Homo sapiens: one gene and its partner. The protein of the gene in region 2 interacts with the protein of the main gene of each other region in a biochemical or structural test. Each region holds a gene or a part of one and is shown on either strand. Other genes may lie near its edges. The genes, in order: OTUD3 and IREB2.

The links.
Region 1: the proteins of IREB2 (region 2) and OTUD3 form a complex in vitro, tested with the Homo sapiens proteins (one study listed by BioGRID).

What each region holds. Positions count from the first base shown.
Region 1 is NC_000001.11:19,906,395-19,913,671, reverse strand, and holds the end of OTUD3 (OTU domain-containing protein 3), read right to left. Parts: intron 7,241-7,277; coding exon 7,056-7,240; intron 6,103-7,055; coding exon 5,926-6,102; 3' UTR 727-5,925; downstream 1-726.
Region 2 is NC_000015.10:78,483,213-78,490,489, forward strand, and holds part of IREB2 (iron-responsive element-binding protein 2), read left to right. Parts: intron 1-105; coding exon 106-222; intron 223-1,548; coding exon 1,549-1,708; intron 1,709-2,492; coding exon 2,493-2,628; intron 2,629-4,520; coding exon 4,521-4,605; intron 4,606-4,967; coding exon 4,968-5,124; intron 5,125-5,434; coding exon 5,435-5,559; intron 5,560-7,209; coding exon 7,210-7,277. UniProt on the Homo sapiens protein: RNA-binding protein that binds to iron-responsive elements (IRES), which are stem-loop structures found in the 5'-UTR of ferritin, and delta aminolevulinic acid synthase mRNAs, and in the 3'-UTR of transferrin receptor mRNA.

The DNA of each region.
Region 1 (7,277 bases), on a different chromosome or scaffold from region 2:
GAATCACACAGAGAAGATCACTTGAGAGATTGTGGGAGAATCTGCTTGCAGAAGCTAGAATATTCTTGACTTTCATCCAGAAAACCATCTAGTCCTTTTTTGTGTCAAGGCAACAGGGAGCCAATTCAGAAGGCTGCTTGTTGAATACAAAATGAAGAATGGGAGAATGGGAGTCTCAAGGTCAAAATCATGACATGGTGAGGTCTGCCGAGCCAGAGCCCTTGTGTGGATGGGGCCCCTGCTGGACGCAATGAAGGACTCCCTTCGCTCTGGTTTCCTGTGGACCCTTCTAGGTGAGTTGTGCCCCCAGATGGTACTGTCTGTGCCTTGGCAGGGAGCCTCCTCCTTGAATGGGGTCAAACAATCTTGAGAGTTCTAGAGGAGCCCAAAGTGGCCGCTGACAGACAACTGCTACATATTTAAACAGTTTCAAACTTATCAAGAGATGCTCTCAGATATCAGGCAGAAATCTTAAGTGTGTAGTCCTTAAGAATGACCCTGCCATTGTGTTTGGTGGCTGCATTTAGCTGCACTAAAGCAAAAATCAGCTGTTCTAAGCTTAGTCAGATCCCAAAGTACTATTATACACCTAGAATACTCAATCCAGCACACGCAAACACGCAAAGCTTCCACACAAAGGTCTCCAAAAAGGACATTTCCCAGCACACTCAGCCTCCTTGCATTCACTCAAACGGTGGTCAGATACTGATAAAAACAACTTAAAACTTTGTTTTTAAACTAGAATTTATTGGTATACAAAACTCCATTTCATAGATAAAGTGGCACATCTTTGCAGCTTCTATTGCACCAAGTATCGAAGATTAAAAACACAAAAAAAGAAACATTTGGTTTTGAAAACACTGCAAATAGCCAAGTACAGTACTTTGGTAAATAAAAAATAAAATGGTTCAGATGAACACAATCCGTGGAAAGAAACAATCTAGGGGGAAGGAACTATGGACATCAGACAATGGTCACAATTCTCACCATCGAGCTCCATAGATAAGGCAAGACTTGCTAAGTCTATGGATCACGACCCCATGGAGGTCTTAAGTATCTCCAGACTGAAGCTAGAACAAGTATAGTGCAATTAGAAAGAGAGAAGGCCCCTCCTCCACGGATACATCCACCCCTCTGTAAAGGAGACTGACGCATGCCAACACTTCTACATGGGAAAGGGGAGCCCCCGGGTGTGACGTCTGACTCCTGGCCCTTTTCTTCTTTCCTCTGAGCTTAGTGCTGGTGGAGGCTCTGGAAGAGGCACTGGGGAGGCCAAGGGCCCTTCCTACTATGAAAAATGAACTGTAAGAGTGGGAAAATGTGTGAAGCCTCTTACCAGTACTGCTCGAGGGACCTGCCAGGGATCAAACCGCCAGCTGAGGTCTGTGGCTGAGCTCACATGATTGTCATGGATGGCTGGCAGCCTGCCGCAGGCTGACACGCCAAGGATGAGAGCCAGGCCACAGAGAGTCTGTCCGGCAATCGCCGCCAGCCGCAAGGACTGGCAGTGAGCAGCAGCAGCTCTGGATCACGGCTATGACCTGCTTAGAATAAATTCCCTATGCAAAAGTTCGTAGTTTTACAGAAATAGATTCTTTACACTGGTACCAGCCCCTTCTCAAGTAATTCTGCAAGGATGCTAAACATTTTCATGGAACCACAAAACAGTCCTAACGAGGACAGTAAAGAGAGGGACTCTACAAAGCAGCTGCTTCAAAGACATAGGTCAGAGCCTGAGGTTTTAAAGGAATTTCACCTTGGGAGAGAACTTCCAGGCCAACCACAAGGCACCGCTCTTTCCGGAGGTCCCCATCAGCGGTGTGCGGTAAGCTCTGCATCCTAAGTGCACGTGGTGACTGGTGCTCCGTGTTCTCTCCACGTTACAAATATGACTGTCCCCTTTCTAATATGCGATGGCAGACGTCGTAATTTATGCCATCTAGATCTTCAAATCAATGATGTCATTAAAAAAATACAATTTACTGGCCGGGCAGGGTTGCTCACACCCGTAATCCTAGCACTTTGGGAGGCTGAGGCGGGCAGATCACAAGGTCAGGAGTTTGAGACCAGCCTGGCTAACATGGTGAAACCCCGTCTCTACTAAAAATACAAAAATTAGCCAAGCATGGTGGCACACACCTGTAATCCCAGCTACTCAGGAGGCTGAGGCAGGAGAATCGCTTGAACCCGGGAGGTGGAGGTTGCAGTGAGCCGAGATTGCCCCACCACACTCCAGCCTGGGCAACAAAGCAAGACTCTGTCTCAAAAAAAAAAAAAAAAAAATTTACTTTAGAGCCAGGAAAACATAACTTATAAAAAGTCCATTATTAAATCACCTCAGAACAACTGTCAAAGGCCCCGGAGTTTTAGCAACACTTGTTCTGAAAGCTGTGAATAATGAGAATGGCAAAACAGAAAAACGGCATCAGACTGAGTCTAAAGATTTAACATGGCTAGACAGAGCCTTGAGGTAAGAAAGTGAAGAGCTACGCATCTACCCAAAACGGGAGTCGAAGAGGGCCACTGACGCAACACATTAAAATCAGGAAGCTCCATTCTCTTCCCCCCGCAGAGATCCTTTTGGTCAGGGTAACTTTTAGTCACCTCTGACTAGGAATCCAAGTTTCCTTCAACTGACTGAATATTTCACAGAGGTAAACTGATAGCATTCTATGCTGACCCAGTAAAACCCAGGCAGAGTCTACAGAGTTTCTCAGAATTAGAGAAATTGCACATTGACTACAGGGACTCACTACTAGTACAGTTCAGCGCTGAAGTCCACCTGATGCTACCTGTGTAATATGTGAGCAACTCCCCGACTGAAGGTGGCCCTCCTCCCACCCCACCCCCGACAATCACATCATTTCACACTGAAGCAGCTCCCTGGGGGAAGCAGGGCAGGCATAATAAATTACCCATGGAGAGGCTCCCTCCCAGCCAGCTCCAGCTGCTCCACAAGGGAGATCCCACTTCCCAAGCCCTCAGAATCAAACTGGCATTGGAAGTGTTTTCAGAGCTTAATAAAGAAACTACAGACAACTTCGACTAACATTTAAAATTCTTTCTGCCACAATTTCTCAACCATACTTTGCTCCTGAAAGTGTATGTTCATTATTATTGAAAAACTAAATACACACATACATTCTAACTTTCTAATATCTCCTAGTGGCAACTACATTATCTAGAAGTTATGGTTCTATGCTGCTTTAATACATCTACCTCTCTAGTTCAAAGCTGTTGCCACTAAAATGGTATTTATTTTGACCTCTAAAAAAAAATATTTTCAAAATCCGTAAAACCTTTATATACCGTTTATAAGAGCAGTAAGCAGCTATGCACCACTGCTCCATCCCCTTTCTCCTGACCACACTACAAGCTACCAAGACAATCTCATGTAACATAAATCTCTGCCAGCCAAGATGTAACACAGAGGTTAAGACACATTCAGTTCCTAATAAAGAGTTCACAGGAGCACCTGTACTAGAGTAACAGCTGCTGACAACAGTCATCCCAGGACTAGACATACTGGGCCTCCACTCGGGCTGCCAGTGAAGGAATTTTCAAGTGCCCACTGAGGCAACTAAGCATGTTGATTCCAACCTTCTCATGTACCCAGTGAGACTGAGGCAGTGAAGTCTAAATTGAAACCATTAGCTAGAAGGTATCACTGAAGTTGGATGCATGTACCCGATTCCTAATAATTAACACACTAAACAGACCAACTGTAACTGAAAAGCTGTGAAACCAGTAGTAAAATTACTAAAGCCGTTTGATTAGTTTTTTAAACCACCATTATTATACTCCAGAAATGCTGAAGCCTATTACCAGAATTAGGTAATTTAAAAAATAAATGTTCCCAATATTCTTTAATAACTTTTTAGCAGCTTCTAAAACTTCTAAAACCCAATAGGGCCCAAGGCCACCTTCATTAACCAAGTAAATAAAGCAATTCTACTACTTCTGACAATAAGTCTCTCTTAAGCTGACTGCTAATCTGAATTTCTGGCATACAATCTTATCTTTCTGAGAGGATCTGGCCTCTGCACTCAAGCAGTACAAAACAGACAGGAAAACATCTTCATTCAGAAACACTCAGCCAGTCAGGAATCTGCCCAGAGTTGAAAACCAAGACAACCATAGATCCTAACGCACTCGATCCCACTTCCTTAGAGTAAGGCAACAGAGATCTTTCATTCGTTTGGAATGAGTAGAGTAACACAGCCTCAAGCTCAGGACTCTGCGACGTGCACAGAAAAAAAATGCTGTGTACTTTTTTTAATCTGCTAAATTTTACAATGTACTGTACCCAGGAAGAAACCTAAACCACAATGTCCTAGGAGCAATTCCAAGAGACTACTGATGCTCCAACTACAAAAAGCCACCAAAGTCAAAAACAAAACCAAAAGATACCAGTGAAACTGAAGAAAGCCAAAGGCCTGGTGATAAAGACAATCTGGCGACTCCAGGGCCTACCAAACATTTTAGTTTTCAATTTGCCTCCGAATTTTTATAATTCTGAAATGCGAGGGGTGGGGAAGATAACTAATAATTTACCTTTCAACTCAGCATCAATTATTTGCCCAAGTATTAGGTCCCAAAAGACAAAGATGATCCAAGATGGGCTGCCTCATACGTTATAGTTCTTAAGTTCACATCCACCTAACTCAGTTTTAGGAAAGACGTCTCTCCACTGCTCAAGTCTGTCTATTTCAGAACTGAAGAGTGATTCGAAGGCCTCAACCAAAGTATGTTCTCTTCTCTGCTGGTCCAACCTAAGTCAACCAACCCTGCTGGTCCAACAACTTCCAGCAGATGCTGGAGTTTTCCCAACTTTGAAATGCCAAACAGGGCTTAAATAAAAAGAAATAAATGTAGCATTTTATAAGATTTAATTTCCACAATACTAAGTTTAGCGACCTATAAGGTCAAGTTACCACGTATCTCTCTGAAGGCATCTAAGTCTACAACAGAAGGGAAGAAAATCGTTATTTAAAATGCGAACATGAAAAACCTTATTCTTCCAGGCTTCTCCTATAAAAACATAATTCTTTAGACTCCTCTTAGGCAAAACCCCAGGAGTTCGTCTCCTGTTACAACTATAGACCCTGCTCTACACACTATCAGAATTCCAGAACTGTATCACAAGCAGTAACATGCCATCTCCCCACTGTCAGGAAACAAATACCAAAAACCCAACACCACTATCAACTTCCCAACAAGGCCAGGCCTAATTAACAGTCAGCTGCATTTATCATATGGCTTGAGTGCAAATGAACTAACAGCACCTGCATCCCATCTGAAATAACATCAGAATCAGGAAGGAGAGAAATGCGGTTAATTTCCATCCTGACTGCAGGCCACAACCCTCACGTAACTTTGGGAAAACAATTCCTGAATTATTTTCTGAGTAACTTGGATTAGAAGTAAATCAAAGCATATTCCTGAGTTGGAGATCATTTATAAGCTACCCTATATATCTGTTTGAGAATGAAAGAGAAACTAAGGAAACTTGTCATTCTGAATTTCTAACAATTATTCTAAACTACTCATGAACAATTACAGCAAAACTCACCCCAAATGTTAAGGAAAGATCCTAGGGTCACTGAAGTCTGATTTTCAGGGCAAATAAAGCCACCACTTAAAAGGTTTTTCCTGACCTAACTATCTGCCCCTAAAACTCAGTATTTTAATTTTGTATTACAGAATATGAATGGCCTCACTGCATTTTCATAAAACACCAACATATCACTAATAAAACTTCGAACAAAAAAAGAGGCAGCTTGAACGAAACTAACTCAGTGTGTGAGCTCATGTGTGGGCTTCGTTGGTTGTGTTGCGTTTTATAAAAGGACGGCCTCACTGGAAAGTCTAGCACACAGCAATCCTTTTCCAGCCGCTTCTTACAACTCCCAAGAGGCCAAAGAGTCAGATGTTGAGAGCGGCGAAGGTCTTCACCAAGGTGACCTGCGTGTTCGCCTCTGCTTCGCTTCTGTTATTGTCCCTGTGGCTACCTCTGCTCTCCAGGGCTTTGTGGCGGTGCCTCTCCTCCTGCCGCTTCTTCTTCTCCATCCACTGCTGTTCTCGCCTCTGTTTGTTTGTGACCTGAGAGAGAAGGCCATGGTGGTGAGTAGGAAGCACGGGGGACTCAAGCTGCCACCTGCTAGAAGGGAGATGGTGGCAAAGGGCACAGATTGCTTTTCAGCAGGAACAGGGAAAACCAATCTAAGACGCCAAAGATGATTTACTGTCCACTGCTGCTCAAATTTGCATTTAAATTTATATTTCCTTGCTGAACTAGCAAACAAAATCAATTCCATTCTTCTCTTAAAGAAACCAGCCCTCATCCAGCAAGAGTTGGTAACAAACAAACGTGTCAGAGAACATTTTTCCCCACATAATTTAATGCCCCAGGTAATTCTGACAAAATCCTCAGAAGCTTATTGCATCTCTGCCTCTGCTGTGGCTTTTTACACTGTGGCATTTTGAGCTCAGAACTTCTTGGTGAAAATCTTTAAAATGATTCCAAATTCAGTAAAATGGAAGATGTCACATACTACTTGTGGGAGTGAAGGGCAGGGAGGGAGATGTACCTTTCTGGGAAGCACGTGACAATTTACCAAAAGCCTTTAAAAGATTCATGTATCCATGACCTTTAACCTGTTCATTCCTCTTCTGGGACTTTATTCAAGAAAATAATGCAAAAACCAAAGATTTATACACAAAGGTGTTCATTGCAGATCATGGCATTTATAAAAAACATGGATAAACATGGGAAGAGCCCACATGTACAGTAATGTTAGGTGGGAAAAGGAGGCTTTTCATTTGTACACTGAGGACAATTTCAGGGTGTATTTCCTTCCAACTGTCACGGCATACACCAAACAGGATAAGTGAGGTCATTCTGCTTCTTGATGTAGCTTTATGCATTCCCCAGATTTTCCACACTACTTTTATAAATCAGAAGGAAAATACAAATAAAATTAATCTCAAGCTACCACCACTGCCACAGAATTACACCTGCCCACCACCTGCCCATTCAACCCCATCTTACATACCTTTGCGAGCTGGTTTTTATTTGCTTTGTTTTCTTCACTAGGGCTGGCCTGTGCCTTATTGTTTTCGGTCCTGCCTTCATTTAAGCCCTGATTTCCAAAGATTCTGGCACCACTGCCACCCTCCTCCCACAAAGGGCCACACTGCTTCAGCACTCGACCACTGGGCTCAAGATTCTCTTCTGCATCTTCCAAAGAAAGACATTTCATTAAAACTGAGAACCT
Region 2 (7,277 bases):
TAAATACGAATATACTTACTCTGCTTTAGAAAGTAATGCTTCAATTGGAATCTGTCGTAAGGAATTAATTCTAATTCCTTGTTCTTTCTCTTTCTCATTTCTTAGGTGATCCAGATTAATCTGAATTCAATAGTTCCATCTGTTAGTGGTCCAAAAAGACCTCAGGATAGAGTTGCTGTGACAGATATGAAAAGCGATTTCCAGGCTTGCTTAAATGAAAAGGTAGGTTACTTTATTCTTATCCGTGTTTTTCAACCCGCTTTGTGCTAAGTAGTAAAGAACCAACAAGGTGACCCATAAACTCAATTCACTGCTATGTTTTATATATTATGGCACACACCAGCAGCCCCCTTATTTTCCTTCTGTCTAATGTGCAAGTCAGTCATTAGGTAAGCTTGTTCCCAGTTCCATTGTGAGGATCAGAGATTGATTGTGTCTATTTAAATTAAAATTATATACAATTTAAAATTGAGTTTCTTAGTCACAGTAGTCTCATTTTTAAATGCTGAATACATATGGGTCTTGTATTGATGAACAGCATAGATAATTGAATAGTTACATCATCACAGAAACTTTTTTTTTTTTTTTTGAGACAGAGTCTCACTTTGTTGCCCAAGCTGGAGTGCAGTGGCACAATCTCGGCTCACTGCAACCTCCCCCCTCCCGGGCTCAAGCGATTCTCCTGCCTCAGCCCCCAAAGTAGTTGGAATTACAGGAGTCTACCATCATTCCTGGGTAATTTTTGTATTTTTAGTAGAGACAGGGTTTCACCATGTTGGCCAGACTGGTCTTCAACTCCTGACCTCAAGTGATCTGCCCACCTCAGCCTCCCAACAGTGCTGGGATTATAGCCATGAGCCACCGCACCTGGCCTACAGTCATAAAATTTGGTAAATGTGACCGAGTAGCAAGTGGTCTCTGGCTTTTGAGGGTTTGTATTTTCTGTCTGAGAATCACAGTTTTAGTCTTGTCACTTTCTCTATTCTGAGATCTCTAGTACTTGGCTTTCCTTTCAGAGCCTTTCTTTTTATGATTTCTTGACTTTTTGTTCAGAAAGTGTTAAACTTGTACAAAAACAAAATAGTCCACTGAATTGCCATGTACCTGTCAATTAGCTTCAATAATTAGCAACTCATAGCCAATCTTGTTTCAGCTATGCTACACTCACACACATAGGATCCCTTTGGAGGAAATCTTCGGGGTCATTTTAACAGAAAAAAATTTCTGCCATCTCTTGAGAATTACTATAAACAGGGATGATTAAGAACAACAAAGCCAAATGAGATCTGGATTCTGGGTGGTAGGCTGGACTCGCTTAGTAGATAAAAGTTTTGCTTGTGAACATCACCAGACTCCTGTCGTGCCCATGCAGATTTATGCTTCAGCTGAATTACAACTACTGAATGTTATGGGCCTTTAGCATCACTCACAAAAAGGATTTTTAATGTTAAATCATCAAATGTCCGGTATCTGCTATGTTTTCTGCCAGTCTTTTATTCTGTACATACCCAGAATATTTAGTTTATATTTTTGTGGAAATTTGTATAGGTTGGATTTAAAGGCTTCCAAATTGCAGCTGAAAAACAAAAGGATATTGTCTCCATTCATTATGAAGGAAGTGAATATAAGCTGTCTCATGGATCAGTGGTCATTGCTGCAGTTATCAGTTGTACCAATAATTGCAATCCATCTGTCATGCTTGCTGCAGGTGGGTTGTGGTTTATGGCCATACTTTTTCTTTTTCCTTAATTATTGTTGGCTTTTCTGTTATTGTAACTTTGTTTCTTAGATGATGCATGAGTGTCTACATTTGATATTGAGAGACTTTCTAGTATTTTAGTTAGGTCTTAAGGAGCCTGAGTTTGATTTATGTTGTTTTTATTACACCGAAGGTAAATTTACTGTTTACTATAACTTACCTGTCAATTAATTTTAGGTTGTATCTGCTTCTCTTGTTAATTTAGAACTATAGTTAATTAGCAGGTATTTCTTGATTATCTAGAAGTTAACCATAACAGTGTGGTAGATTTCATTAAAAGTTATAAAAGTAGTAAAAGATCATTGTCTTGGCAAGGATTGTAAATGAAATTAATTTGTATGCCCATTGGAACAATTCCTTAGTTGTATAAAACCATGTATAATGTGTTACATTGCTCTTATTGTAATTATGACTTTAAAATGGTTTGCTTTAGAAAAAAGAAGAAAGAGAAAAAATGGTTTTGTTAACATGTACTTATATATGTGCACCTTTTGTTTACTCTGTGTGAATGATGTCAGCCTGTATCTTAATAATTTTCAACATAAAGGCTGTAATTTTAAATTTGTTGTAAATGAAGCAAATCAGTAGAATAAAGTGGACAAAATAATGACAGTAAGTTTATGAATTCATACTTTAATCTGTTAAATAAATTACTTCTCACTTTTTACTTTAATATGGGTGAGAGAGGGAAAGAAACATTGCCATAATAAATCATTGTTTGTTGGCTGTGCAGGTCTTTTGGCTAAAAAGGCTGTTGAAGCTGGTCTGCGTGTTAAACCTTATATAAGAACAAGTTTATCTCCAGGCAGTGGGATGGTTACACATTACCTCAGTTCAAGTGGAGTATTACCATATCTAAGTAAGCTTGGGTAAGTAACAGCTATCGCACTTCATATTGATATTGGTGTTCAGTAGGTACTGAAGCTGCTTGTTTGTGCCTTTCATATACAAAGAGAAGATAGAAAAAATATGCTTTAGTTTTACTTGCTACCTTGCCATTACCATACAATTTTTGATGCCTTATCACTCAGGAAACACTTATTGGGCATATCAAATGAGCAAAGCACCAGGTTGGATACACAGAAGTAGGAGATGTGGTCTTAGCTTCAAGATACTTAGTTGGGAAGACAAGACAAACAAGTACAACCAAATAACAGTTACAGTGTAAGAAACGATACCAAGTATGCACAATTTCTGTGAGTTGTGTAGGTCAGTTCAAAAAAGAAAGAAATCTTATAGTTTGCATTTATTAACTGAAAATTGTCTTAATTTTAGTTTTATGAGGTTATTGGGTCTATAATACATAAGTTTAAATTGTCCCTGAACTTTGGAGAAAGTAACTTATGTTTTTTGGGCTGGGCGCGGTGGCTCACGCCTGTAATCCCAGCACTTGGGGAGGCCGAGGCAGGCAAATCATGAGGCCAGGAGTTTGAGACCAGCCTGGCCAATATGGTGAAACCCCGTCTCCACAAAAAATACCAAAATTAGCCAGGCGTGGTGACGCACACCCATAGTCCCAGCTACTCAGGAGGCTGAGGCAGAAGAATTGCTTTAACCTGGGAAGCGGAGGTTGCAGTGAACCCAGATCGTGCCGCTGCACTCCAGCCTGGGCGACAGAGCGAGACTCCATCTCAAAAAGAAAAAAAAAAAAGTAACCTATGTTTTTTATGTAATCCAAAACAATTGATGCTAGTTGTGTGGGGATTTTTTGGTTTTGAGACAGTGTCTTGCTCTATTGCCCACACTGGAGTGCAGTGGTGCAATCACAGCTCATTGCAGCCTCGACCTCCTAGGCTCAATCAGTCTTCCTACCTCAGCCTCCTGAGTGGCTGGGACCGCAGGTGTGCACCACCACACCCAGCTAATTTTTATGTTTTTAGCAGAGACAGAGTTTCACTGTGTTGGCCAGGCTCGTCTCAAACTTGTTCCCTTAAGTGATCGGCTCGTCTTGGCCCCCGAAAGTGTTGGGATTACAGGCCTGAGCCACCACACCCAGCCTAGTTATATTTTCGGTGTGTATTTTGGAACATATGAGTCATCAATTCCATTGCAAAACTGATAAATTTTAGACTTTTTTGCTTTTAGAATAGCATCTGAAAGTAATTTAGAGGACTGTGCCTGTAATCTTTTGGTTATATTATCTTGGATTTATTGTCAGAGACTCTTCTTGGGTTTAACTGGTTGATAATTGAGAGATTACTCCTATCAGAGTGCCCAATTACAATCAATGCCTCTTTTGGGACCTTTGGTCAGGTTATTATAGCCAGGTCCTCTTTACATTTTAAACTCTTGGATGGAAGTACAGTATCAATTATTTTAAAAGGTCATGTTATATTCCTAGCAAGTAGTATTTGGGGGAATTCTCTTGTACAGTGATAAGTGCTATTAAGGCTCTTCAAAGGTTTGCATTCACCTTTGAGACCAGCCTGAGCATTTTTATTTTTTATTTTACAAAAAATAAAAAAATTAGCTGGGCCTGGTGGCGAGCGCCTGTGGCCCCAGCTACTTAGGAGGCCAAGGAGCAGGATTGCTTGAGCCCAGGAGGTTAAGGCTGCAGTGAGCTGGTTCAAATAGCATGCCTGAGAGTTAGACTTGATTGCTCAGAATCTTCTGAGGTGAATATATTGATGAAGGTTAATCCATGTGTCATGAATAGTCTTTTAAGTAATCTTATTACAGTGATAGAAATACAAGATAAGACTTGTCCTTTCTCTATAAATGTTGTGATGTGCTATTCAGTCACTTTTTTTTTGAAATGCAGATTTGAAATCGTTGGCTATGGATGTTCAATTTGTGTGGGAAATACAGCACCCTTATCAGACGCAGTTTTAAATGCAGTAAAACAGGTAAAATGTGTGGATTGGCAAGACATCTAAATGATTTTCTTAACTATGTTTTGTTACTAAATTATAGAAAATATATATTGATGTGTTTATATTTCTGTAAACTCTGCACCTCTTGGCAATAGTAACCTGTGAATCTTTAAATGATTCAATGAATCATTTGTAGATCCTTGAAATAATTCCTTCATAATACAAGGAATTGATTTAGTTTATTTGCAAGATGCATAGTTCTATATTTAAAAATTAGTAATATGTTTTTTGGTTAATCTCGCCCTCAGACTTTAAGATTGCTTATATATGATTATCCAGATTTGTACCATCTCTAGAATTGAATTTATTTGTTTGTGTGTTTGTGTTTTTTTCAGGGTGATTTGGTTACCTGTGGAATTTTATCTGGAAACAAAAATTTTGAAGGTCGTCTTTGTGATTGTGTTCGTGCCAATTATCTTGCCTCTCCACCCTTAGTGGTAGCTTATGCCATAGCAGGCACAGTGAATATAGATTTCCAGACAGAACCTTTAGGTATCTTTTCCTTTATGTATATGTATACCTACACATACTTTTCCCAATGGAAGTCGTTATATTTTTGAAATGTTTCTTAGACCATCTATTCTTTGAATTATTTCAGGAAGACGTATGATAATGTATAGTTATTAATTTCTGTGTTTATGTGAAGAAAATAAAATGTACAGGTAATTAGTTCTTCCAGCCGCTTAAGCCTGAAGCACCCTGTTGAATCATTTACTTGATTTCCATGATATGTCTTTGAAAAGGTATGAACATTTTCAGAGTTATTTTTTTACTGAGTATCATGTTCAAAAATTTTAACCAGGTACTGACCCCACCGGCAAGAACATTTACCTGCATGATATTTGGCCTAGTCGAGAAGAAGTTCATCGAGTAGAGGAAGAACATGTTATACTATCCATGTTTAAAGCATTAAAAGATAAAATAGAAGTAAGAGTCTTATGTGTTTCTTAAATAGTTTAATCAATTTGCAGTGTTCTTTTATTTCATATATCTTCTGAATAGAATAAAAATTAAAATTACATTATTTTGAATACAGTTTTTAATGTGTAATAGTAAGTTTGTATCTGGAATCTGTAGTTAAAAAGAAAATGGCGGCTGGGCACAGTGGCTCACGCCTGTAATCCCGACACTTTGGGAGGCTGAAGCAGGTTGATCACGTGAGGTCCGGAGCTCAAGACCAGCCTGACCAACATGGAGAAACCGCATCTCTACTAAAAATACAAAACAATTAGCCAGGCTTGGTGGCGCATGCCTGTAATCCCAGCTACTCAGGAGGCTGAGGCAGGAGAATCACTTGAACCTGGGAGGCGGAGGTTGCGGTGATCCGAGATCGCGCCACTGCACTCCAGCCTGGGCAACAAGAGTGCAACTCTGTCTCAAAAAAAAAAAAAAAAGAAAGAAAATGTCTTAGAGGATCAGAATTCATTAGTGTTGATTGGATGATCTGTGCAGCAAACCACCATGGCACACATTTACCTATGTAACAAACCTGCACATCCCGCATATGTACCCCAGAAGTTAAAATAACAGTTGAGGGGGGAAAAGAAAGAATTGATTAGGTGTTCAGAATACATCATTGAACAAAACACAAAATTCTCCTGGGGAGAGGCAAATAAGCTGTAAAGAGAATAATTAGCTAAATTATGCAATATTTATTATTTTTTATTATTTATTTTTTGGTGTTTTTTGGGAGATGGCACCCCACTCTGTCACCCAGGCTGGAGTGCAGTGGCCTGAAGCAGCTCACTGCAGCCTTAACCTCCTGGACTCAAGCAATCCTGCTCCTCAGCCTCCTGAGTAGCTGGGGCCACAGGCGCTCACCATCAGGCCCAGCTAATTTTTTATTTTTTGTAAAATAAAAAATAAAAAATGCTCAGGCTGGTCTCAAACTCCTGGACTCAAGTGATCCGCCCACCTCAGCCTCCCAAAGTGTTGGGTTTACAGGCGTGAGCCACTGTGCCTGGCCTAAGAAATGGTGAGATTTTTGGCTGTAGTTTGAAGGCGTTGATGTGGAACAAATACATTGAAAAAGCAGAGGTTTTTCTCCATTATAACATTCTTAGACATTAACAGCATACCTCATACATGCTTAATCTCTCTGTAGCAACATATAGAAATCTTTCTAAATTCTTTAACTTTTTTGGACTCTGTGAAGTCTTTATGTTCTGTTTATATTGAAACTTGCCCCTTGGAGTGTTCCTGAACATCTGGTATGCTAGAATTTGAGGAGCAAATTTTTAATCATTCTGTCCAAAAACATCATGATTTTTTAGAACACACTGTTTTGGCTGGGCATGGTGGCTAATGCCTATAATCCCAACCCTCAGGGAGGCCAAGGCCCACGTATCGCTTGAGCTCAGGAGTTTAAGACCAGCCTGGGCAAAAATAAAAATTTAAAATTTTTTAAAAAAAAGAAAAGAATACACTCTTAATTTTCTTTCCAAATGGATAAGGCCTATTTTTGTTGTTGTTGTTGTGACCTAAGTACTATTTTATTCCCTTGATCATTTTCATGCGCCTCTTTTTCTGAGTCCTTTTATCTTTGCTTTGGTTCATCAACGAAAACTGTATTCACAGATGGGGAATAAACGGTGGAATTCCTTAGAAGCACCGGATTCAGTTTTGTTTCCATGGGACTTAAAGTC